7 linked regions of the Homo sapiens genome follow. The protein of the gene in region 2 interacts with the protein of the main gene of each other region in a biochemical or structural test. Each region holds a gene or a part of one and is shown on either strand. Other genes may lie near its edges.

Region 1 (3,500 bases), on a different chromosome or scaffold from region 2:
GTTTCACCATGTTGACCAGGATGGTCTTGATCTCTTGACCTCGTGATCTGCCTGCCTCAGCCTCCCAAAGTGCTGGGATTACAAGCATGAGCCACCGCGCCTGGCCTACCCTTTTGAAATAAATAGTATATCAAAGGTAAAAATTTAAGGCTGGGTGCAGTGGCTCACACCTGTAATCCCAGCACTTTGGGAGGCCAAGGCAAGTGGATTGCTGGGGCCCAGAAGTTCGAGACCAACCTGGGCAACATGGCACAACCCTGTCTGTACAAAAAATACAAAAATTAGCCAGGCATGGCCGGGAGCGGTGGCTCACACCTGTAATCCCAGCACTTTGGGAGGCCGAGGCGGGAGGATCACCTGAGGTCAGGAGTTCGACACCAGCCTGGACATGGTGAAATCCCATCTCTATTAAAAAAAAAAATTTAAAAATTAGCTGGTGATGGTGGCAGGCACCTGTAATCCCAGCTACTCGGGAGGTTGAGGCAGGAGAATTGCTTGAACGTGGGAGGTGAAGGTTGCAGTGAGCCAAGAATGCGCCACTGCACCCCAGTCTGGGTGACAGAGCGAGACTCCGTCTCAAAACAAACAAACAAAAAGGAAACAGTTCAGATGCAGCTGTAAAAACAAAGTTAAATCCTTGCCGTCCATTTACATCAGAATAAATACTAGTTTGTGCTATGGGCTGAACGTGTCCCCCAAAGTTCACGTGTTGGAAACTTAATTCCCAACGCAACAGTGTTGAAGGTAGGACCTCTAAGAGGTGTTTAGGTCACAAGGGCTCTGCTACATGAATGGATTAATTCCGTTACAGTGGGAGTGGATTTGTTATCTCGGGAGCAGGTTACTGATAAAAGGATGGGTTCCGCCTCCTTCAGCGCTCTCTCACGTGTGCTCCTGCCCTTCTGCCACCTCCTGGGGGATGTAGCGACAAAGAAGGCCCTCGCCAGATGTGGCCCCTCAATCCTGGACTTCCCCATCTCCAAAATTGTTAGAAATAAGTCTTTGTTTTTCAGGAATTAGCCAGTCTCAGGTATTCTGATACAGCAGCCCAAAATGGACTAAGACAGACAGATTAAATGCTGTGTACAAAACTAAAGTAAAAATACCTTCTAGAAGAAAAGACAGGTGCATCTTTATCTGGCTGCATGCTAGGGAGAGTTGACTACACAGAGAGACGGAATATCTAAAAATGGGGAAAAATCCAACACACTTCACCACAAAATATGAAACATTTTTGACATCAAAATGATCATAAACAAAAACTAAAAGGGTGAGAAAAATGTGCAGTAGGCAGAAAGAGGAGTGAAGAATTAATATCTTTAATATACAAAGACTCATACAATGGCTGAGAAACACATCAAAACCCAAGAGAAGGCCTGTCATAGGGGCCAGGCGGCCGCAGGAGACGAAGCCGCAACCCCCTGCAGGCACACGGCGGCTGATGGAGGAGGCCAGGCTGGTGCTGGTCTCTGAGAGGACACCACTGCTGGCCAGCTATGGGAAACGGCAGGGCATCTGTGTCCCCGCCAGCCCTTCTCACTCAGGCCTGGTCTCAGCACGCACCACCCCATCACACCCTCCCAGCTCCCCCTCCTAAGGGAGCCATGCTACTCATCACCATCTTGTAACCCCACAGTTGGCCACTGGTTCCTCTGTGTGTTGTGGATCTCCTCAACCAGGCTGGGAGCTCCTCAGGGGCAGGGCTGGGCCTGATGTGCCTGTGATGCCCAGGACCCAGCATGAGGCTGGGTGAGTGGGTGCTGAGTGTGGTGACACATGGGTGTTTACATCAGCCCCTGTCCCAGCTGAGCCCTGAGGCTCCCTCCCCAGCTGCCTCCCGCTGTGGACAGGACCACACCCCAGGGCCCAGCAGAGCAGGCAGCCGCAAGCCAGAGCCCAGGTTGCCCAAGCCAGAGCAGAGATGGCACAAATGCCATCACCCATCGCACCAGTGCCCAGGGCAGACATGAAAAACCAATCACCACAGCAGACAGGAATAAGCAATCACCACATTCCAGATGGGCAGGATAGGAGATGGGGAAAGGCAGAGAAAGAGGCACAGAGAGGGCCACAGAGAAACATAGAGAAGACCAAGAACTGGAGGGGGGAGGGAAAAGAAGGGACAAGAAAGGAGCAAGCAACAGGAGGGAGAGTGAGCAAGTGTGCCTGGGCAGCCTCGGACCTGCCCAGCCAACCACCCTCCTGCGGACCCTGTTACCAGGGCTGTCGTTTGGTGTCTGGCTGACCTGGCCTCCCTGAAGTGTGGTGACCTACGAGGAGTTAAGGGCAGTGGGACAGCCCCTCCTGCCACCCTGAGATGCCCTGTCACCTGTGCCACAAGCAAGCCAAGTACCCTGCCTGAGCTTCTTTGTCCCAACCCAGAAGACCCTGCATGGCCAAATGGCCTGAGCAGTGACATTCTCGGCCAGACGCTGGTCCTCCCACACAGCCAGGCGGCAGCAGACCCAGCTCCCACTAGGCTGGCCCGGCCGGCAGCTTTCCATGCCCAAGGACTTGGGAACAGGCAAGGAGTCAGTCATCCTGTCCCTCCCATCTGCCCTAGATCCCTCAGCCTAGGTCACTCAGGCATCCGGAGGCCATGGCCTTCTCCCTACCACTTAGGCACAGCACTGGCTGGGCCATGCCTCCACAATGGGCACTAATTGTCACTGAGAAACCACAGGGCTGTCAGCCATGCCTCCCACAGAGACTGCTTTTTGGGGGGACAGGCAGATGGCCAGGGTGGGGACTGGAGGAACAAGAATGGCCAGGAGCCATTCTCTTAAGCCATCACCCACTCTGCTGAACAGCACCCATCGTGGCAAAACTCTGGCAGCGTGGATGTGAGCAGGGTATGCCTTACCATCCTTCAGAGGGTCCTGGGGGACATGGACCACTCAGCCTCCAACCCTGCCATGCTTCCCAGGCGCTATGCCTCAGTCCCACTGGAGCTAGCAGCCATGATAAGCAGAGGAACCCCAAACACAGATAACACCTGAGGCCACGGGCCAGTACACATGGCCTACGGCTGTGATCAGAGTACATTCAGACTATTCAGTTATGGGCTGTCTGCAGCCATTTTCATCCTACAATGGCAGAGAACTGCAGCTGTGACAGAGACCATAAGGCCTGCAAAATTGAATTACTTACTATCAGACCTTTTCAAACAAAGTTTTGTGTGCCTGGCCTCCAGGACTATCCTCTGTCCCTGTGGCTCCAGTCTCTGGGGGGCAAGCGAATGGCCTGGCCCAGCAGGCTGTGCCAATACTGGATGCCACTGCGGCTGGCATCCTAGCTCAGGCAGGTGAAGAGCAGACCCAGTGAATGTCCAAACCAACACTGACCAGCAACCTCGTCAGCCAGCCCCAAACAGGCTTGTCCCTAAAGCCAGACATCAAACCAGTGGCTGCTGCCCATATTCAGGCCAGTAACAAACCCAAGCTGGTGGCAGGAGGCCCTCACATCCACCCTGTCCAGCCCAGGGGCTGTGCCTACCCAGG
Region 2 (3,500 bases):
AAGAGCTTCAGAGACTTCTGGGGCAGAGCTGGGACTCCACCCTGAGCAGCCAGACATGAGGGACAGAACTGGGTCCCAGTCCTGGTGCTCTGCCCATTATGTGCTGGAGCAGGGTAATGCACACAGGTGGGCAGGCTGTACATTGCACAATTCCAGGGAGTCACCTGCTACCCCTGCACTAGACCTGGCTTTCAGCTTGGGGAACATATGGACGTGTCCTCGCCATATCTTTGCTGCACCAAGGACAGCGGTCTATGATTTTAAACCCTGTCCCACCCATTAGTCCACAAACACCCTCATCAAAACCAAACAAGGCAGACACTTCGAGCTGCTAGGGGCCTGCCTGGTATTCAGAGCACTGGCTGGGGAACCAGGGGACCTGGGCTCAGGGCAGAACCATCCATCCCTACCTGAGTGACCGAGGGCAGCTTCCTACAGCTCCCTGAACCCTTTCTCATACAGGACCAGGACATCAATACCCCAATGATGTGTTGAAGGCTTTGTGGGCCTGGAACAGTGCCCAGTGTCACACCGTTCACCCTTGTGAAACCTGGTGGCCTCCCTCCCTCAAAGCAAGCCTGGGCGGAAGGTGTTCAGACCACCTGGCAGGCCCTGGTGAGCCTGTGGGAGGCCAAGGGTGCACAGGCCCCCTTGTACCCACCTCTCCACAACTAGACGCCCCCATCTCCAGAAAGCCCTCCTGATCTAGCCCTCTCTCCACTCTGAAGGTGGTTTCTTCCTCTTCTGGGCTCCATGCATTGTCATTGGTCCCTCACAATGCAGGATGGGGGTTTCACAGGGGTCTGCGGCTGTGGTGATGTGGGCAGGAGGCAGTGGTTGGGGTCACCAAGCCTGCGAGCCTGCCAGGAGGCTATGCTTAGTCCTGAGGCCGTGGGAGCCATGGCCCAGCTTTCGGCAGGGAGGGTCCGGGTCTCGCCAAGTCCCTTCAGGCTGCTGTGTGGGGCTGCATGGGAGGGCAGAGGCCTGTCGGGGGAAGACCACAGGATGGCAGATGGGGTGAGGGTGCATTTGCTAGGCCAAGCCCCGGCAGGAAGGGCAGCTGCACAGCGCCCTGGTCTCAGCTCCAGTCCGGCTGGACTCCTGGCTCCTGGCAGCCTTGGCGAAAGCTCTTGGCCAAGCAGCTCTGCCGGCAGTTCCAAGTCCTCCAGTGCCGCCAGATGCTGTGGCTCAGCACTGCAGCCCCAGCGGGAGTGGGCGGGGCAGGAGGGGAGGCGTCATCTTGCCTGAGTGGTCCCAGATGCTGAACTCCAAGGCATGTGCAGCCCCAGGAAGCTGCTAAGAGGATTACAAATCAAAAGCCAACCCAAGTTCTTCAATAAATACAACCGGGAGATGCCATCAGAACCTGCTTGGGGTTGCACAATAAAAGCCGGTGATTAAATGCCACCTTGTAAACTGCTCTGGGGCTCTACATTCTGAGCGCATGGCAGGCTCCAAGGCCTGTTTATCTGCAGCCAGAGGAGAGGCTGCATGGCCTCAGAGCTCTGGTTACGCGCAAAGGGAAACCCTTCTCCACACAGGCCCTCAGAAACGCATTTATCCCTGCTTTTACCATCCCGTGGATGGACATTTATCCACTCTGTGCAACTGCGATGCCTTAACATGGACCTGAGAAGATGCGAGGGTTCCCCTGAGAAGTGGTGAGCCTCTGTCACTGGAGGGATGCAAGAAGGGCCCAGAGGGTTAGAGGAGATTCACACATCACATGGGCCCTCGTCTCATTTCGTGTCATCTACAGAGGCCACGCACTGGCCCAGGCCCCTGCCCGGCGAGGCTTCGAGCCTGGAGGAGATGGGGATCACGCAGAGAAATTGACCCACAGTCACATCTGTGTGCAGGGCCCACCGGAGACCCTGGGTGTGCTCACCAAGCAATGAAGGATGACCTGGGCACAGTGGCCAGGGCAGGTGGCTCAGGGGCGGTGGGACATCCGGGTGAAGGCAGGATGAGGAACCCACCACGCTAAGGCAAGGGAAGGAAACGCCGGGCAGTGGGCACATTGCGTGCAAAGGCCTCGAGGTGGGAAAGAGACCGGTGAGGCCATGAGGCCAGAGCACAGGGGATGAGGGGACAGTGGGAGACGGCACCGAGGGTGATGCGGGCCAGGTGGCAGGCACAGGGCCCTGTGAGTCAAGGTAAGTGCTGGGGTGCCTTGCAAGGAAGCCTGCAGGTCATGGGCAGGACAGATTGACCAAGGTGATCCTGGCTGCTGTGTGAGAAGTGATGGAAGGGAGGATGGAGGGGGAAGTCAGAGCGCCCCAGGAGATGTTTTGTGGATGAGCTGAGGGGACTCCCGGTGCACAGGAGAATGAGGGGTGGAGGGGAGTGAGAGGCAGAGAGGAATGAGGGGTGGAGAGGAGTAAGGGCCCCCATCCACACAGCTGGGCTGCAATGGGCAGGCCCAGGAAAGGTACCCCCACACCAAGTCCCAAACTGATGAGCCACTGTGACAGTGCAGCAGGCATTGAGGGGAGTGAGGGGAAGAGGGGAATGAGGGGCGGAGGGACGGAGGGGATCGAGGCTCCCCACTGAACATCGTGGTGCTCCTTTCAGTGGGGCTGGGAAGAGTAGAGCCCGAGGCGGCTCAGCAGGCATCTCCACGTGACTCTAACTCAGGAGAGACCCGGGGGCTGGAGATAGGGCCCGAAGTCCCAGCACCTGGGGAGGACTTCATGGCAGATGAGCTTACTGGGGCGGGGGTGCGGGGGGGAGGGTGGCGAGAAGGGACCAAGGAGACCTTCCTGCCTAGAGGGTGGGAGAAGGCGGAGGAGCTGACATGGGGAGGGGAGAGGAGAGCACAAGGAACCTCAGCCCACAGGAGGCTGCCCTCATCAGGCAGGACTTCCTCCCAGAAATGCCCGGCAGCGCCTGGCACACCACTAAGTGTGACCGGCACCCAGCAACTTCTGGCTGGGACCTCGGGAGGGCAGAAGCCGGCTACGCTGCTGGAATACTCCATGGAGGCTGAGCCTGATGGAGCCGGGGGCCCAGGCCTGACCCGACTCCCAGCCTCAGGGGCCCTGCCACCCCTTGCAGAGGAAAAGCCAGGAGGCCCACAGAGCATAGCCTGCAAAGCCAGCCAGACCCAGGCCAGGCCCAGCCGGGTCACTTCCTGACCATGTGACCTCAGAGCAGTCCCTCACCCTTCCTGGCCTCCAGCAGCACATCTGTGGTGCCTGGGAAAGGACCAGGCTTGCCGTGGGAAATGAGACAGGGCTGGGGAGAGGCCGGGCACCCAAGGCCTCCACAGGGAGTGGACTCTGCGTGTCGCCCTGCCGAAAGCTGGCTGTCCAAGGTCCCCGTGCACCGGGCTACAGTGGCAGGGCTGCACACCGCCCACAGTGTGAACGGCGCCCTGGAGATGGCCAGCAGCCTCCCACCTGCACTCTCTGCCTCCCCTCCCCACCAGGCCCCATTTCCCCACCTGGCTCCGTGGGCTCTGGTGGCGACAGGGCTCTCGGGTCCTGTGCAGGTCTCTG
Region 3 (3,500 bases), on a different chromosome or scaffold from region 2:
GCTCTGTTCAAATCTTTCCTGGGCTGAAGGTGCAGGGCACAGCTAACTGGACAGCCCCACCTCCCATGATGTCCCCTGGCCCCAACAGCAGTCACTTCTTAAAAAGAGATGGGAAATGGTTGACCCAAACCCGCTTTTTGGAGTACACTGCATGTGAAATGTGGAAACTCTACAGCATACACACCACAGCTTCTCTCCAGACAATCATAACTGACTTTTCACACACACAAGCTTCATAGCATCTCAACTTTGGGCCTTGTCAAAATTATTACATTTTTGGACTTTTGGGGTTGCTTGTGAATAAATGCATCCATATCAAATCTGTTAAAGTTGGGGGTCTGTTGCATTAGAAATAAGACACCTCTATAAACCAGAAAAAGCTGAAATGATTTATAAAAAACAAAAATTAAAAAAGGATGAAAAACTTACCTTCATTTAACATCATCACTTGAAAGGGAAGATACAAAACACATGGTAGTGTAATTCATACCTTCCAGTACGTGCTTGACAAGCTTAAATTCAATCTCTCATTTTGTAAAAGAGGCCTGATAGTTTAGTTTCTTCTTTCACAATGAAATATCTTTAAGACTGGACTGATACCTTTTGGGAGAAGCCTCAGTAACTGGCAGCACTAATTGGTGAAAGGCAGAAGCCTTTAGGGGCCTCAATACCACAACTGTAGGGGCCTGAATAATTGATGTTGAGAAATTAATGGAAAAGTTAACCCAACACAAGCACTATATTTAGAGCACATCGTTGGCCAAGTTTTTCCACTGTATGTCAAAAGCAATGGAAGAGAATAAGAGGACCACAGATGAAATAAATTTAGGTAGAAAGCCTTCCATTTTGTGAACATATAACTTGCTTTTCTCCAATAAAATTGGCTGCTTGGCTAGGCAAAGAAGGCAATTATCTTCGAAAGAAATAAAAGTTGGCATCACATACCAGTAGAGGACTGCCCAAGAAATATGTAGTTTTTGAACTCAGCTACTGGTTGGTGATCATATGAGGGAAAGGCAGCATGGTGTGATGAGGCGGAAAAAAACAAAATGGGGAGAAGTTAAGGATTCTAGACTTTGATATGTGTCTCAGGTTCTCTACATGCAATATGAGAAAGTTGGATTGGGTAATTTATAAGGATTTATGTGTTTACTTCTAGTTCTAAAATACTATGATGGACAATACTCCTAAGCAATTACGGAGTAGCATCAGTGTAAAAAAATCTGAAAATATATCTATTTCTGCTCAGAATGACATTAACATTTTAAAAGTGACAATAATTTGAGATGACCAAAGTTTGAAACACTGAATAGAGGAGGGAAAAAAGCTCTCTTTCCAGGCAATGGAAAGCAGCTTTTAATAGCATCCATATATTCAAGAATTTGAAAATACTTTCTCTATCTAGACATTCTGATATCCCTCCTATATATTATTTCATTTAGAAGCTAAACTTACATTTGATTTCTATGCAGTAATCATTTTTGTGTCACTTGGGCAAAAGAAATGTTATAGATTTCCCCTTTCTCTTTAATTGCATAGAGGAGAAATTAAGGAATGACAAGTGGATTTCAGGACATTTAGATAAACCACACTCTCTTGGCTTTGTACTCTTAGGGGAAAATTTAAAGCTTCTGTGGCAGGAAAAAAGGTTTCTGATATAAATGGCTTATTACATGATGACTAACAAAAATCTGTATGAGTACATTCTTTTTTTTTTTTTTCCTTCTTGAGACAGAGTCTCACTCTGTCACCCAGGCTGGAGTGCAATGGTGTGATCTTGGCTCACTGCAACCACCACCTCCCAGGTTCAAGCGATTCTCCTGCCTCAGCCTCCTGAGTAGCTAGGATTACAGGTGCACGCCACCATGCCCAGCTAATTTTTGTATTTTTTAGTAGAGACGGGGTTTCACCATGTTGGCCAGGCTGGTCTCAAACTCCTGACCTCAGGTGATCCACCTGCCTCGGCCTCCCAAAATGCTGGGATTACAGGCGTGAGCCACTGCGCCCGGCCTGTAGGGGCACATTCTTGATGAGGTAAGTTAAATCACTTTTTTCTTGCTCATATGTCTTTTACATTACATACTGATGTATGCTAGGCAGCTTGGCAAAGACACAGGTAATAATGGGGACTGAAGTTTCTTTCATCAAATACGATTGTGGAAACTACCAAATTAGATGCAGATAATGAATACTGCAATCTAAGCAGGCCCAGTGGCCATTATGAAAACTGATCATTCCTGAAGTCAAAGGAAGCAGTATGTGGCTATAAATTATCATGAGGGATTCAGAAAATACTCAATGCTGTTCACTTAGCCTGCCCTACCTATAATTTTAGGTTAGAACAGATACTGTTTGATCAATAATGTTTTATTCCCTAAAATAAGAAAGTTTAAATCCAATTTCATACAGAGGCCTTTGGCCTTTATTACATTTAAATTAGTGTTTAATATAGAATATCTATTTAAACATGAAATATCCAATAGGACTTCAATTACCTGTTGCTAAATTTTCCTTCACCCATCTCCTTACCATGACTCTTAAAGGGCTTTGACGTATATTGGCAAAATCCCAGATGATATGCCAAATTCTAAGTATGGATGCTATGTAAGATTAGAAGTGCAAGGACTACTTCCTTAATTAAGGAAAAAAGTACTCTAAGGAGTTGCAAAGTATATGGACTAACTTCATAGGTGTATTCTTGATTTCATGCCACACACATATGATAACTTTCTCTACCATAACAGCTCTCTAGGTTAGTCTGACAGAGCACCTGACTTTAAGAAACAAACAAATGAACGAACCAGTGAAACAGACGTGGGGAAAGATATGTACATTTTGGAAGTATTACATTCAACAGCTGTTCCACAATCTGGCCATTTTTAGGACTGTCCAACAATACTGTTAATCCAGGTGAACTATTTAACCAGATTTAATAGTCAATTGATTAATAATAATAGATTCCAAGTTAAACAAGGCATGTATACATTAAAGAAAGCAGTACAGAAATGTACTGTATATGAACTGTTTACAAAAACATACAAAATGTTGGATGGCACAAGGGATACAGTGCTAATATAAACGGATTGTTTAAGCTAAGTGCTTAACATAAACTGTCCATCCCTATAACTAACAAAGAATATTTAAGGGACATGAAATATTTCCTATAAAAATAATGCTATATGGTGTACTTTATTCAGTGTATTTTTAGGTGGTATTCATATGTTCATTATTTTTCTCATTGATTCAGTGACTATATCTTCATCATGTTTCCATTTTCATTTCTTCCGAAGCTCCAGGAAAATCTAACTTGCTAACAATCATTTAAAGCGAGAAGAGAGGAAAGCAGGAGCAGCAGCAGGAACAGCAGCATTATGGGTACCAGCTGGGACAGTGTGTGCTTGCAGGTGTCTCTCAGATACGTGCTACCTGTCGCCAGAACTTGTGCTATCAGCTTACACCATGGTACCAAATATCTCACTGAGGTCACTTCACAGGGCTGT
Region 4 (3,500 bases), on a different chromosome or scaffold from region 2:
CCATTACTATTATAGCCATTGTAAAAACTAGTATATAAATTTAAAACTCCAGCTATAATGAAATTATAAATTTGAATGATTAAAAGATGGCATTTCAACTTTATTAGTTCTTTTCCTCTTCAAATCAATTTCAGATGAGTGCCTAAAGGGCAATATTATAGTTATGCTAGCAGCTATATTACTTAAATAAACCTTACCTATCCTTTTCCCTGAAATCAAAAGTTTCCCATTAAAAATAAACTTTAAAAAGCAGACCTTCCCAAAGCTTCTTCCAAACTGATGATGGCTGCTTGCAGTTGATTTTGACTGACTGCTTCAAGAGACAGGCTCAGACGAGAGGACTCAGTGACGAGTGGTGGCAGCCGTGCTTTGCTGGAGTGGCCTAACAAGTAGATAGTTGCCACAGTTTGAAATTCTGCTGAACAGCTTGCTGCTGCCCAGGACCATTCACTAGTCAACATTTTCAGATCCAGTTAATTGTTAAATTGGAAAGCCTTGGGAGAATTTAGCATTACCAGAAAGACCATAGCCTACGTGCATCACTTCAAAGCATGGCAAGAACTTGTTCCTGGCTAGGTAGGCATAAGAGGCATAAGATGCAGACCATGTAGGCGAATATGGGAAGAGGAGGCAGGTAATATATTTGAAACCAACAGTTACCAAGAAGAAAAGTTAGTAGAGGGATAAATGAATTAGTCTTCAAACCCTTCACAATGTGAAAATAAATGTAGTGGGCCATAACATCCCTAGGGTTGTAGCATTCATTACCTGAGCAAGACAGGGCATGGAAGAATGAAACAAAGCACATGACACTTGAGATATTATCAACAAAAATTTCCAGAGTTAGTTATTCTCAAATTTCTATCATGCATTCATTTAAGCTTTAGGGAAAGTAATTCACTTACCAATTGCTGTTAAAATAAATAAAAGTGTGGCAACAGCTGATGTTCCATAAAACATGGTGCTGATATTACAAGCCAGGAGATTTGTGTCATTCTGTGTGTTGGGTACTAAAACTGGTGGTAGCAAAAAGCCAACTGCAGTTCCAAGCTGAAAAACACATAGTCCTGTTAACAGCTATTATCATTAGAGAAAAAAGTAAATGCTGGCAATTAACAGAACATAAAGAGGACAGCTAGTGTTTATAAAGGTGCTTTGAAAATTAAACTATTATGTTCTTTTTTTTTTTTTTGAGACAAAGTCTGTCTCCCAGGCTGGAGTGCAGTGACGCAATCTTGGCTCACTGCAACCTCTCCCTCCCAGGTTCAAGCAATTCTCCTGCCTCAGCCTCCTGAGTAGCTGGGATTACAGGCGCGCGCCACAACGCCCAGCTAATTTTTGTATTTTAGTACAGACGGGGTTTCACCATGTTGGTCAGGCTGGTGTCGAACTCCTGACCTCATGATCCGCCCGCCTCGGCCTCCCAAAGTGCTGGGATTACAGGCGTGAGCCACTGCACCCAGCCTAAACTACTATGCTCTAATGTCTTTTTTACTATTGTATTGTTAAAGGGAAATTGCTCACCAATATCTCTCCTATCCAAAAAACATTTACTGAGTTCCTACCATCTGAGTGATGCTGCTATTATAAAGCTGTGTAATATACAGTCCTTGCCCTGCAGATGCTTACAAAAGGGGAATAAGAATATGCAAAATAAGGCTGACAAAAGATGACCTACAGAATCAGAAAAATTTGTAAATTATATATCTGATCAGGGTATAGCTTCCAGAATATATAAAGAACTATTACAGCTCAACAACAAAAAAGCAATATCCCAATTTTAAAATGGGCAAAAGACTTGAATAGACATTTCTCCAAAGAAGATATACAAATGGTCAATAAGCATTTGAAAACATGCCCGAATCAAAACCATAAGATACCACTCCACACCAGGTAGCATGGCTACTATAATAACAATAATAGCAATATAAAAGTGTTGGCAAGAATGTGGAAAAATTGGAACCCTTGAATACGGCTGGTGGGACTATAAAATGGTGCAGCCACTGCAGACAAGTTTGGCAGTTCCTTAATAAGTTTAACATAGAATTACCATATGACCTAGCAATTCTACTCCTAGGTATATGTCCCCAAAACTGAAAACAGAAATTCAAACAAATAATTACATATGAATGTTCACAGCAGCCCTATTCACATTACCACAATAACCAAAAGGTGAAAATAACCCAAACATTTATCAACAGATAAATGGATAAACAAAATGTGGTATATTCATACAATGAAATATTATTCAGCTATTAAAAAGGAATGAAGTACTGATACAGTGCTACAACATGGATGAACTTTGCAAATAAGCTAAGTGAAAGAAGCCAGACACAAAAGGTCACCTACTGTATGATTCCATTTATATGAAATATCCAGAACAGGTCAATCCACAGAAAGAGAAGGGAAACTAGTACTTGCCACAGGCTAGGGGAGGGGGCAATGGTGGGGAAGTGACTGTTTAGTAGGTATTGGGCCTTCTTTGCGGGTGGATAAAAATGTTTTGAAACTAGACAGAAGTAACAGTTGCACAACACTGTAAATGTACTAAACGCCACTGAATTGTACACATTAAAATGGTTAGTTTTATTTATGTGAATTTTACCTCAACAAAAAATATGGCTAAATATCATAATCACAAGAAATAAAATCAAACTATTAGGAGGTTCAATGGAGGAAGGTTTTTAGGAGGAAGATTTTTAGGAGGAAGGGCGTGAGGAGGAAGGGCCCAAGAAAGGAGTCTGAGGCAGAGATAGTCACACTTATCAAATATTTCATTTGCTCCCTTACAAAAAGCTAGATAGAGGCCAGGCGCGGTGGCTCACACCTGTAATCCCAGCACTTTGGGAGGCCGAGGTGGGGGGATCACGAGGTCAGGAGATCGAGACCATCCTGGCTAACATGGTGAAACCCAGTCTCTACTAAAAAATACAAAAAATTAGCCGGGTGTGGAGGCGGGTGCCTGTAGTCCCAGCTACACGGGAGGCTGAGGCAGGAGAATGGCATGAACCCGGGAGGCAGAGCTTGCAGTGAGCCAAGATCGCGCCACTGCACTCCAGCCTGGGGGACAGAGCAAGACTCCATCTCAAAATAAATAAATAAATAAATAAAAATAAAACAAAAAGCTAGATAGAAAGAATATAACTGGTAATTACAAGAGAGGGTGGTAATACAGTACTGTGATTGAGACGTAAACAGTGCCAAGACTGGGGAGACCACGTAATTTACTATCCATCTAGAATACTCTTCAGAATGAAAGGGACTTCATTAGTAATCATACCAGACAACAGGTGTACCACCTGGACTATCCCAAGCAAACTGGGACATATGATCATGGTAGCTAAGAGAGTACTTTGGGGGAGCACCTTATATAGAAATATTATTCAGCTATCAAAAAGAATGAAAAGAAATGGGGTTCAGAAAAAGTTCCTGGAGGAGCAAAGATCTGAATAAGAAATTGGAGTTAGTCAAGTGAAGAAATATTCCAAGCCAACAGGACA
Region 5 (3,500 bases), on a different chromosome or scaffold from region 2:
GAGAAAAGTCTGGAAAGACATATGCCAAAATGTTAACAGCTGTTATCTTTTTTTTTTTTTTTTTGAGACCGAGTCTCACTCTGTCGCCCAGGCTGGAGTGCAATTGCGCGATCTGAGCTCACTGCAAGCTCTGCCTCCCAGGTTCACGCCATTCTCCTGCCTCAGCCTCCCGAGTAGCTGGGACTACAGGTGCCTGCCACCACGCCCGGCTAATTTTTTGTATTTTTAGTAGAGATAGGGTTTCACCGTATTAGCCAGGATGATCTCAATCTCCTGACCTCGTGATCCGCCTGCCTCAGCCTCCCAAAGTGTTGGGATTACAGGCGTGAGCCACCGCACCTGGCAACAGCTGTTACCTTTAAATGATGGGGTTAAGGGGACGTTCTTCTTTGTGCTTTCCAAGTTTTCTGCATTGAGCACAAAATGCTTTTGTAATTAGATACAGGATCCCAATGAATCTTATTATACTGAAGATAATACAGAGTCACCGTGGGCAGTTAGAAAAATGCAAAAAATCGGCTGGGCGCAGTGGCTCACGCCTGTAATCCCAGCACTTTGGGAGACCTGGGTGTGTGGATCACGAGGTCAGAAGTTCAAGACTAGTCTGACCAACATGGTGACACCCCGTCTTTACTAAAAATACAAAAATTAGCTGGGCATGGTGGCGCGTGTCTGTAATCCCAGCTACTCAGGACACTGAGGCAGGAGAATTGCTTGAACTCAGGAGGCGGAGGTTGCAGTGAGTCGAGATCCCGGCAGCCTAGGTGACAGGCGAGACTCCATCTCAAAAATAAAATAAAAATAAAAATGCAAAAAATAATAAAAGGTGCCAGTTACCTATACTCCCACCACCTAGAGATAATCACCATTGATCTTTTGAAAATGCAAATATTCAGCTGGGCACAGTGGCGTGTATTTTTTTTTTTTTTTGAGACGGAGTCTCGAGTCTCTCTCTGTCGCCCAGGCTAGAGTGCAGTGGTGTGATCTCGGCTCACTGTAACCTCTGTCTCCCAGGTTTAATCAAGTCTCTTGTCTTGGCTTCCCGAGTAGTTGGGACTACAGGCACGAGCCACTGTGTCCGGCTATTTTTTGTATTTTTTTGTAGAGACAGGGTTTCGCCATGTTGGCCAGGCTGGTCTCGAACTCCTGATTTCAAGTGATCTGCCTGCCTTAGCCTCCCAAAGTGCTGTGATAACAGGGGTGAGACACCATACCCAGCTTGTAATCCCAGCACTTTGGGAGGCTGAGGCGGGTGGATCACTTCAGGCCGGGAGTTCGAGACCAGCCTGGGCAACATGAAACCCCATCTCAACTAAAAATTCAAAAAAGTTTAGCCAGGCTTGGTGGCGCAGGTTTGTCATCTCAGCTACTGGGTGACTGAGGCATGAGAATCACTTAAACCTGGGAGGAGGAGGTTGCAGTAAGCTGAGATCTTGCCACTAAACTTCGGCCTGGGTGACAGATTAAGACTGTCTCAGAAACAAAACAAAACAACAAAAAAGCTTTTAGAGCAAGTTCATGGGAGATGCAGCAGGAGGCGCAGGAACCACACATGTGCTAGTGAGGAGTGTGGGGAGACTGGGAGGGCCCACAGGTATTGTGCTGCTTCTGGCTGAGGGCAGGGGAATAGGGTGGCTGCTTCTGAAAGCAAATATCCTGAAAAACCTGTTGCTGGTACTCCAAATTCTGGTTCCCATGTAGATCATGAAACCTGAAAAACTTCCAGGCAAGTAGCTTTCAGAATCTTTCCTGCTGTGATTAGCTTTCACTGCAGGTAGTGATTACCTGTGAGATAACATCTGGGAATTATTGATTGAAAAGACCTTCACTATCGGTTGGGGGCGGTGGCTGATGCCTGTAATCCCAGCACTTTGTGAGGCTGAGGCGGGTGGATCACCTGAGGTCAGGGGTTCAAGACCAGCCTGGCCAACATGGTGAAACCCCATCTCTACTAAAAAATACAAAAACTAGCCAGGAGTGGTGGCAGGCACCTGTAATCCCAGCTACTTGGGAGGCTAAGGCAGGAGAATCACTTGAACCCTGGAGGCGGAGGTTGCAGTGAACTGAGATGGCACCAGTGCACTCCAGCCTGGGTGACAGAGCGAGACTCCATCTCAAAAAAAAAAAAAAAAAAAAGAGGCCAGGCATGGTGGCTCACGCCTATAATCCCAGCGCTTTGGGATTTTCTGTCTCAAAAAAAAAAAGAGAGAGACTCTGGATCAAAAAGGATTTTCACAAACAGATCCAAAGAACCAGCATCCAGATTAAGAAACAGCATTAACAGCAACCCAGAAGCAACCCTTGGGACCTGCCTCAATCTCTGCCTCCTCCCTACTCCCCATAGGTAACCTCTATCCTGACCTCTTAACACCATGGATCAGTGAAGCTCCTTTTAAAAGTATATAAATGGAGTCATGTAGATTTGATTACTTTGCGTTTGGCTTCTTTCCCTCAGCAACATGTTTATAAGGATCATCTAACAACAGCAGTTTTGAAAAGTGAGTCTCAAAGAGGCAAGAATGGCCGGGCATGGTGGCTCACACCCGTAATCCCAGCGCTTTGGGAGGCCGAGGCGGGCGGATCACAAGGTCAGGAGTTTGAGACCAGCCTGGCTAACAGGGTGAAACCCTGTCTTTACTAAACCCTGTCTTTACTAAAAATACACAAAATTAGCCAGGTATGGTGGCAGGCACGTGTAATCCTAGCTACTCGGGAGGCTGAGGCAGGAGAATCACTTGAACCTGGGAGGGGGAGGTTGCAGTGAGCCACTACATTCCAGCTTGGGTGAGAGAGTGAGACTCCATCTCGGAAAAAAAAAAAATTAGCTGGGCGTGCTGGTGGGTGCCTGTAATCCCAGCTACTTGGGAGGCTGAGGTAGGAGAATTGCTTGAACCTGGGAGGTGGAAGTTGCTGTGAGACGAGATTGTGCCATGGCACTCCAGCCTGGACAAGAGTGAGACTCCATCTCAAAAAAGAAAATAATAATAATATAGTTTATTTTTCAGTATTTCATGTTGATTTATCTCAAATTTATTGTTGAATAAGAAGTGATACAGAGATTCAAAGTTATTTTTCCCAGATACTTTTTATTGTCCCAATACCACCATTTATTGAACAATCTATATTTTATGCACATTTCTTTTTTTTTTCTTTTTTTTGATACAGGGTCTTGCTCTGTTTCTGCCTGGGCTGGAGTAAAGTGATAGTAAACTGATTCTCCCACCTCAGCGTCCTGAATAGCTGGGACCACAGGCACACGCCACTGCACCTGGCAAATTTTTAAGTGTTTTTTTTTTTTTTTAATACAGAGCCTTGCTCTGTCGCCCAGGCTGGAGTGCAGTGGTGTGATCTCGGCTCACTGCAACCTCCGCCTCTCAGTTCAAGCGAGTCTCCTCCTGCCTCACACTCCCAATTAGCTGGGACTACAGGCACGTGCCACCACAACATGCTAATTTTTTGTATTTTTAGTAGAGACAGGGTTTCACCATGTTAGCCAGGAT
Region 6 (4,245 bases), on a different chromosome or scaffold from region 2:
AAACATATGGAGGGTAGAGTGTGAAGAGCTGTGAGCTGGGGAGAAGAGCTTGATAATTATTATTAAAATTATCTAAATGTGAAAAAATCTAGGTCTCTCTAAACATTCTTAATTCTTAGTGCTTGCAATGCCTCAGGTACCTTGAAATAGTTACCCATATGCCTGCTTATGTATTTCCGTTTTGTGTTTGTGTTTGTATGCGTGTTTGCCTAAGTGTAGTTTCTCCTGGCAGCAGCGTGTGTTTGGTGTACGTGTGCATATGTATGAGTACGAATTAATTACATATCGAAAACATGTGCATTAACGGCATCTGCAGTCCTCCCTCCCTGCTCCAGTCAGTCGGGATGTTTAGCACCGTCACTTGGTGTTAGGACCACTCGGAAGACCTGCCTGTCGGACGCCTGACTGTGGTTCCCGGGGGGCCGGAGCTCCAGGAGCCTGTACCATCTTTATCTGAAGGGGAGGAGAGAAGGAAAGGAGAAGGCATCCGAGCGAGGGTGTTCTCCTTCCTGCAGCCGGGTAGGGGGCAGCCAGGTTTGGAGCAGGGTTCTAGGATTACACGGCAAATCCCCAACTTCAGCACCGCGGACAGCATCACCTCCCGCCCAGGGAGAGGCGCGCGCCTCCTTGCTCCGCCCCCGCCCCAGCTGATGGACCCCGGCCGGTCGGCTCAGTCTCCCTTTTGCTTTCAAACGAGGCCAGGGCAGGGCAGAAGGGTTTTGACAGCCAGAGGGGTACGGTAAGGAGGAGGAAGAGGAGGAGGAGGCGGAGGAGGAGGAGGAGCCGAGGAGGGAACCGAGAAGGGAAGAGAAGGGAGGGCTTCCCTCCGCCTCGCTCGCCGCCCGGGCTCACAGGAGCTGGCGGCGGCGGCGGCGGCGGCGGCGTCTCCTGCTCTCCGCGGCTGTTGCTGCTGCTCGCGCTCCGCCGCCCGGGAGATGCTTCCTCGCGCGGCGCAGCGCTGAGGCCGTGCGTGCGCCCCGGCTGCGCTGCGCGCTCCCCACATACACAAGCTCTCCATGTGAGCTGACAGGCGAGTGGAAACCCCTCGAGTCACGCTGCCCGGCGGCGGAGGGAGCGCTCGCCCGCAGTGGCAACAGCTGCACCACCGTCCCCGTCGCTCTGCCTTCCTCTTCTGCAGCCTCTGCTCTTCTGATTACCTCCCTCCCCCGTCCTTTGGTGATTTTTTTTTTTCAAGAAGGAGAGGGCGGGGTAGGTGTCCGTTCCCTCCCCTCTTCCCCCTCCTTTGCCTTCTTGGTTTGAATTTCCTCCCCCGGCGTTGCACTGGCACACAGTGCAAGAGGCAATACCCGCACGGAGGGAGAACGAAGGCTGAGACTCCCCTGCCGCTCCAAGCCCGGAAGAACTGGAGCCTGGAGGGGGGTGAGGGGAGAAGAGGAAGCGGGAGGGGCTTGGCTTCCTCGCGTATTTGAGGACAGCCCATCTCCCTTCAAGAACCCTACGGAGAGTCGGACTGCATCTCCGCAGCGAGCTCTTGGAGCGCCGCCGGCCGGGAGGCGAAGGATGCAGGCGGCTCCGCGCGCCGGCTGCGGGGCAGCGCTCCTGCTGTGGATTGTCAGCAGCTGCCTCTGCAGAGCCTGGACGGCTCCCTCCACGTCCCGTAAGTAGCCGTCTCCTCGCTCTGCTCTGGAGCAGTTTCAGTGCGGCATTGATGTTTGGCACCAGGGTATCAACTCCGAAGTGCATCGCAGTGCTGGCACCCTGATGTGTTTGTGTCTCCGCTGTCACACACTTGCAGCCACTGCAGTAGACAAACTCGAAACCCAGCGTTTCTGTTTTGGAAGAGACAGGGTTGTGACGCTGGTGATGTTTCTGGAAAGTTGTTCCTGGTCTTGGTGATCGGTTGGCAAGAGCTTGGCTAGAGAGACTGATGTAGATGGCAGCTTCTTAGGAGTTGTTTGTGCAGGGAGAGTTAACTGCATTTGGCTTAGGTAGGTCAGTGAATGAAAAGTGAAGACCATGGCAAAACCAAGTTTCTTATTTTTATTTATGGTTATAACTTAATGAGCACGGGGTTGAGGTTAACAAGAGGAGCATGTTTTAAACAGTTTGGGCACCTATAGGGTCTCTTTAACCTCTCCCGTTCCCTTAAAAAGTTAATGCCCATTTAGTACTTGCTTATTAAAATGGAAGGCAGCGAAATTGTAACTGAAATTGCTTTAATTCTTTGATACTTTGATATCATGGATATGACTGATGCAGTACGGTACTTGGGACACTCAGTGCAAAGCGTCGTTAATGTAGTAATAAACAGATTCTTAATAGGGTTTTCAGGAAAATAATTATATTCAATATGTATATCTCTGCATTTTAATCAACTGTGTGTGTGTGTTTGTGTGTGTGTGTGTTTAAGACTGCCCCTGTTTTCATGAGGTTTAGAAAGAAATGGAAGATTCTGGCCCATTTTCTGCATTCCTTTAGAAGTGCATACTGTGCATGTAGAGAGGAAATGCATGATTGTTCCTTTGGTTCAGAAAGAGTTAAACACTAGAAAGACTGCCTATAGGAATCTTAGGATAATATTCATAAGCGCATACTAGTTTCTGAGAATGAGTAAGTTGATAAAGAATTATCGTGGAGATTTCAGAGTTTAAAAGGAAGATTTTTTTGTCCATTTAGGAAAAGAAAAGTTTAATATTTTCCAGAATTCGTCATATGCGAAGTAGTCTTTGTTTCTAAGATTTTGGGATGTATTAATGCATCTTTGTTAATAATGATCTTATTGTAGTGGTAAATATCAACAGGAATAGCATTGAAAAAGGACATTATAAGTTGTAATAAGGAATCTACTATATAATATCCGGTTATGAGCCAGTATTACTGTTTTGACATATCTTCCTAAGTACAGTATTAGCTTTTCTTTTCCCACAATGTGTAAAGATAAGGAGATAAACTAACTGGCAATCTAAGTTTGTAATGAACTTGAAAACATTGTATAGCATTTTTTATAACACAAGTTAAATCACAAAGAGTTAAATATTGTTAATATTTATGTCAATTTTATAAATTTAAACAAATTTTGGGGATATAATGCTTGCTGTTGATATTTACACAAATATGTAACTCTATCACTGGGAAACTAGTTTGATGAAATTTCTGTTTCCATTTCAAGGTCTGGTTGTATAGAATTTCCTGCCACTTTTCCTGGAAAATAAACTCCTCATATATTAAATTTATTATATTCACTGATTGAAGGTCCTCATATCCAGGGTTTTTCCTGGGTTCTGTGTTCCATCATTCTGTATACTTTAATTTTGATGGGTCCATCTGAAACATCTGCCATGAGTAGCAAATGGAACACTGGCAGCCCTTGGGTTAATGCATTTTAAGATAAAAAAGTTGTTATTTCATAAATATTTTCTGAGTTTTCAACTTTATAGTTAGAATTTGAAGACAGAGAACATAGAAACAATTACTTTTAAGATGGTTAATAGTTATGGCCATTAAGATTTTTTATTAACTTGGCTTTCATTCTCTATTGTTTAAAAATGTGTAATGGCTTAATTAAGGTGGCTTTTTATTTCGTTTGAATTTAAACTGTGTGACCAAAATGCAAAGTTGCCCTATATCCTGGAAATGAATTAAATAATAAGGATGCTACAGAACTTTATTGATTAGAATGAGTTTCATGGATTCAGTACTTTAAATATCAACTGTACTTTACATTAATGAACATTTTTATTTACATTATATATAGCTCTGAAGAAAAGTATGATAGTTATATTCTTAATATAAAACATTCAAAGGAGAAAAAGATGGAAACTACATGAATCTAAGATAATGAGCAACTCAACCAGGAGAGGTCATCACAAGACAAAAAGTAGCATGAAAATCTAAAACTATCATTTTTCTTTGGTACACATTTTTAAAATGTGATGAGTATGCTAAAACTTTCTGTTCCTAAATACCTTTTTAATATGAGGGACAGAAGATGTTTATTTCACAACAACTGCATTTCAAATATGTATTTGCTTATGACTTATTTCTTTTTCTCTGTCGACAGACATATAAAAACTGTTAATACTATGTGTTGTACAAGCAGACTAGAATAAACTTGAAAACAAAGCTCATCACTATGGTTATGTAAAAATATAATCTAATTTCTTTGCAGATAGCGAAAATGAACTGCTGCTGAGCTGATGTAACAAATCGTGTATCTTCCCTTCCTGTAAATGTAGATACACGGGACACACGTGGGAAGTTTAAAGAAAATATTTCACTCTTAGG
Region 7 (3,250 bases), on a different chromosome or scaffold from region 2:
CTATATACATTATAATCATAGACTTCCTCACACTGATTGAAGATGTTGATATGTGCCTGTTTCTCCTTGGATTTTGAGCTCCTTGAGATCATCAAAGACACCTTGCTGCTTTTGTACCTTGTTATTTAGCATATCAACTGGTTCATAGTAATTGCTCAAGTGCTTGTTCAACTACACTGAACAGTGGAAGAAAAGTAAAAATGCTCAAGAGAGGAGAATCCAAAGAGATTTGAGAAGAGGGTGTCGGGAATGGAGTAAGGATGACACATTACGGGACAACTTTGATTAGAAGAGAAGTCTTTAACGATGTGCCTAAGAGGAAGCAGGTAAAGATGGAGACCAATGAAAAAGGTAGGAAATGAAGGGAGCTTCAGGCTGAAGGCTCAATTCTATTTGTTAAATAGGTGATTGAACAGAGTGACTGTTCAACTAAAACTTGGTAAAGATGGTGGCAAGGAAATATATATGACATATTTGCTGGGAAAGTAAATTTATATCTTAGATGCAAAGACCCTGGAAACATTTTATTCTGGAATGTGGCATCTCCTAAGGCTTATTCATATACTTGACATTCTTTTTCGAGGCAAAGTTTTAGATACACTTGTGGCATTTTCCCTGCATATGTGTGCAAATGCTTGTGCCTGAAGATCTTTGCTTTTCTGCCAGGTTGCAGACTTGCCACTAGAGCTGGGATTGGTCATTGTGACATTGCCGCTCATGGAGTCCAGTGAAGCAGGACTCAGGGCAATGCTGCTCACACTATGGGAAGAATAACTGTAGATCATCTTGAGAAAGGCAGACTTTGTGTTAATCTCTTGCTTACAAATAATAACATAGCATTTGGGGATGAATGTGCAATACAGGATTCCATAGTTAGATATTAATATGACAATAATCTCCACAGCTGGTACATATTTGCCAAATGTGGTAGCATAGATAGGGATGAATGTGATCCAAGCTATGAAGTAAATGAGCATGCCAAATGTAATGAATTTGGCTTCATTGTAATTCTCATATTTGCCTTTGAAAGCAAATATGAAGCAAATGAAGGCCAGGATGGCAATGTAGCCCAGCATGGTGCCAAATGCAAGTATGGATCCCTCCTCACACTCCAGGATGATGACTCTGGGCAAGGAGACATTCACCTCTACAGTAGGTGCTGCAAAGATTAGCCAGAGTGTGCAAATGACAACCTGGATGCCCGTGCAAGTGAAGATAATAAGGATCGGTCTATAGAGGCACTTCAGAAATTTCTGTAATTTGGGATCAAAGCTGAAGGCTAGCAAAATTTTCAGAGACTTCGTCAAAATGCAGGAGATGCAAAGAGTAAAGCTCACTCCAAACATTGTCTGCCTGGTTTTACATGTGAAGTCTTGTGGTTCTCCAATGAAAAAGCTCGTGCTGGCAAAATTGAGGAAATGACAGAGAAGGATCACATAGCAGACTCTTAATCCCCCGGATGATTTCACAACAGGTGTGTTCAGGTTTCTTGTAAATATTATGCCAACAACCAGAACAAATATGATTCCCAGTAGGGAGAGAATCAGGAGTAGGATGGCCAAGGAGTCATTCCAGTTGAGATATTCCACTTCCTTTTCAAAGCACATAGTGCTCCTAACAGGGGCCCAGTGAGTTTTGTTGTTGCATAAAAGGCAGTGAGGCATATCTAAAAGACAGAGGAGACGCAGTTACATTGTCAACATTTAAACTAGGTGATAGTCCACAATACTACAAATGAGATTCGTCTTCTTTAATAGTTCTGACTAGAGAATAGATATAGATGATTGTTACATTGGTTACTTATTAAAATAAAACATGCTAAAACTCAAAGAAAGTGAGAGAGAAAGGGTAAAAGTGAGGAAAAAGGAAAAGAAAGAGAAAATAGAGAAAGAAAAAAAGCCAGCTGGATTGTGAATGTTTAGGAAATGAATATACTCAGAATAGATGCTAGCTTCTTATGCATTTGCTATTATAGATGATGGTTCCAGCACTCTTAAGAATAAGGTTTTGGAATCAGACGTAGCTTTTCTTATCTCTTCCACTTATAATTCCTGTAAACTTGAACAAACTAACTGAACTTTCTGAGCCTATTTCAGAATCTCCCATATCTCAAAAAATAATAAAATGAAAAGACTCTGCCGTATTGTGATGCCGTACTTAATGAGATAATAAATGTAAAATGCTTCACACAGACCATTACACATAGTAGACCCTCAATGTATGGGAGTTGCTATCGTGAATAAGGGTGCAGGTCTTTCAAAAGCAGAGGCAATATGGCTAGGTCACTCTGAAAGCTTGAAGTCTCTTTCTAAAAGTGAGATAATGCAAAATTGTAATCGATGGCAATTGATGAAGAATTAAAGTTTATTTTTTCTCCAAGTAGTGGGTAAATCAGAGCCTCTCACACTGTAAGTGTTAACTTTGAAAAGTATTTATGCTTATTCTGGCTGCAGGGCAGCACAAATACTTGATTTTAGAGTTTTGTCTCTAGAAGTGATATTACATTTGCTCCCCATTCCAGCCACCCAAAGTTGGTGAGTCTCAGCTGCAATCAAAGGGCCTCTGTCAGGGCATTCATCTGATGACACCCCACAGCCTGTACAACTCTTTAAAATTTTGTGTTCTCTTCTTTATTAACCTCAAAGTAAGGTTGTATTTCTGTTTATAAACTTCATGACCCTTCCAGCCTCCTCCTCTTTCCGAACTCTATTCCCCTAAAAAATCTGTTCTTTTCTGTTTGCCCTGTAACCACAGTTGCTAGTGTCTGTCATTTCATTCGTCCAGTGGACATTTAATGGCCTCATCTAGGTATGGGAGCTGTGTGTTAGAGAGATAGAGAGGAACAGCAGATGGTATCCTTTTAGGCTTTCCTAACTCCTAGCTTATCCTCCAAGTTGTCTTCAGTCTTCTACATTTCTCCATTTGTTCTTGGAAGCGACTTACCCTGTTACCAAAAGAAAACCCAGATACAGCCTTTAAAGGGTCCCGTACGTCTTTATGGAAAATAAATGTTACATACTCCTTGGTGTTTTTATTTCTCTCACTTGGAAGGTAGTTGCTAGTTACCATGTTGCCTGAAAAACTCCCTCGCTAATTATCTAATTTTTTAGGCAGTGGTATAGCATTTTTATTTATTGATAATTTAAATGCTCAATTCCACTAATATAAACATTATTAAACATACCAAGGAACGGGAAAATTTTAAATGTGAGATAATAAAATGCAGATACATATAAAGTTTTGATACTCT

What was found.
Region 1: the proteins of HTRA3 (region 2) and ARVCF interact in a test that uses a peptide from one of them, tested with the Homo sapiens proteins (one large-scale study listed by IntAct).
Region 3: the proteins of HTRA3 (region 2) and RPS6KA3 interact in a test that uses a peptide from one of them, tested with the Homo sapiens proteins (one large-scale study listed by IntAct).
Region 4: the proteins of HTRA3 (region 2) and FLVCR1 interact in a test that uses a peptide from one of them, tested with the Homo sapiens proteins (one large-scale study listed by IntAct).
Region 5: the proteins of HTRA3 (region 2) and TYRO3 interact in a test that uses a peptide from one of them, tested with the Homo sapiens proteins (one large-scale study listed by IntAct).
Region 6: the proteins of HTRA3 (region 2) and CNTNAP2 interact in a test that uses a peptide from one of them, tested with the Homo sapiens proteins (one large-scale study listed by IntAct).
Region 7: the proteins of HTRA3 (region 2) and GPRC6A interact in a test that uses a peptide from one of them, tested with the Homo sapiens proteins (one large-scale study listed by IntAct).

The regions. Positions count from the first base shown.
Region 1 is NC_000022.11:20,006,824-20,010,323, forward strand, and holds part of ARVCF (splicing regulator ARVCF), read right to left. Parts: intron 1-3,500. UniProt on the Homo sapiens protein: Contributes to the regulation of alternative splicing of pre-mRNAs.
Region 2 is NC_000004.12:8,272,754-8,276,253, reverse strand, and holds part of HTRA3 (serine protease HTRA3 isoform 1 precursor), read right to left. Parts: intron 1-3,500. UniProt on the Homo sapiens protein: Serine protease that cleaves beta-casein/CSN2 as well as several extracellular matrix (ECM) proteoglycans such as decorin/DCN, biglycan/BGN and fibronectin/FN1.
Region 3 is NC_000023.11:20,151,910-20,155,409, forward strand, and holds part of RPS6KA3 (ribosomal protein S6 kinase alpha-3), read right to left. Parts: coding exon 3,489-3,500; 3' UTR 1-3,488. UniProt on the Homo sapiens protein: Serine/threonine-protein kinase that acts downstream of ERK (MAPK1/ERK2 and MAPK3/ERK1) signaling and mediates mitogenic and stress-induced activation of the transcription factors CREB1, ETV1/ER81 and NR4A1/NUR77, regulates translation through RPS6 and EIF4B phosphorylation, and mediates cellular proliferation, survival, and differentiation by modulating mTOR signaling and repressing pro-apoptotic function of BAD and DAPK1.
Region 4 is NC_000001.11:212,861,275-212,864,774, reverse strand, and holds part of FLVCR1 (choline/ethanolamine transporter FLVCR1), read right to left. Parts: intron 1,051-3,500; coding exon 906-1,050; intron 383-905; coding exon of another isoform or gene 256-382; intron 1-255.
Region 5 is NC_000015.10:41,579,712-41,583,211, forward strand, and holds part of TYRO3 (tyrosine-protein kinase receptor TYRO3 isoform 1 precursor), read left to right. Parts: 3' UTR 1-3,500. UniProt on the Homo sapiens protein: Receptor tyrosine kinase that transduces signals from the extracellular matrix into the cytoplasm by binding to several ligands including TULP1 or GAS6. Regulates many physiological processes including cell survival, migration and differentiation.
Region 6 is NC_000007.14:146,115,356-146,119,600, forward strand, and holds the start of CNTNAP2 (contactin-associated protein-like 2 precursor), read left to right. Parts: upstream 1-1,445; 5' UTR 1,446-1,521; coding exon 1,522-1,618; intron 1,619-4,245. UniProt on the Homo sapiens protein: Required for gap junction formation. Required, with CNTNAP1, for radial and longitudinal organization of myelinated axons.
Region 7 is NC_000006.12:116,791,585-116,794,834, forward strand, and holds the end of GPRC6A (G-protein coupled receptor family C group 6 member A isoform 1 precursor), read right to left. Parts: intron 2,945-3,250; coding exon of another isoform or gene 2,940-2,944; exon of another isoform or gene 2,632-2,939; intron 1,667-2,631; coding exon 558-1,666; 3' UTR 501-557; downstream 1-500. UniProt on the Homo sapiens protein: Receptor activated by multiple ligands, including osteocalcin (BGLAP), basic amino acids, and various cations. Activated by amino acids with a preference for basic amino acids such as L-Lys, L-Arg and L-ornithine but also by small and polar amino acids.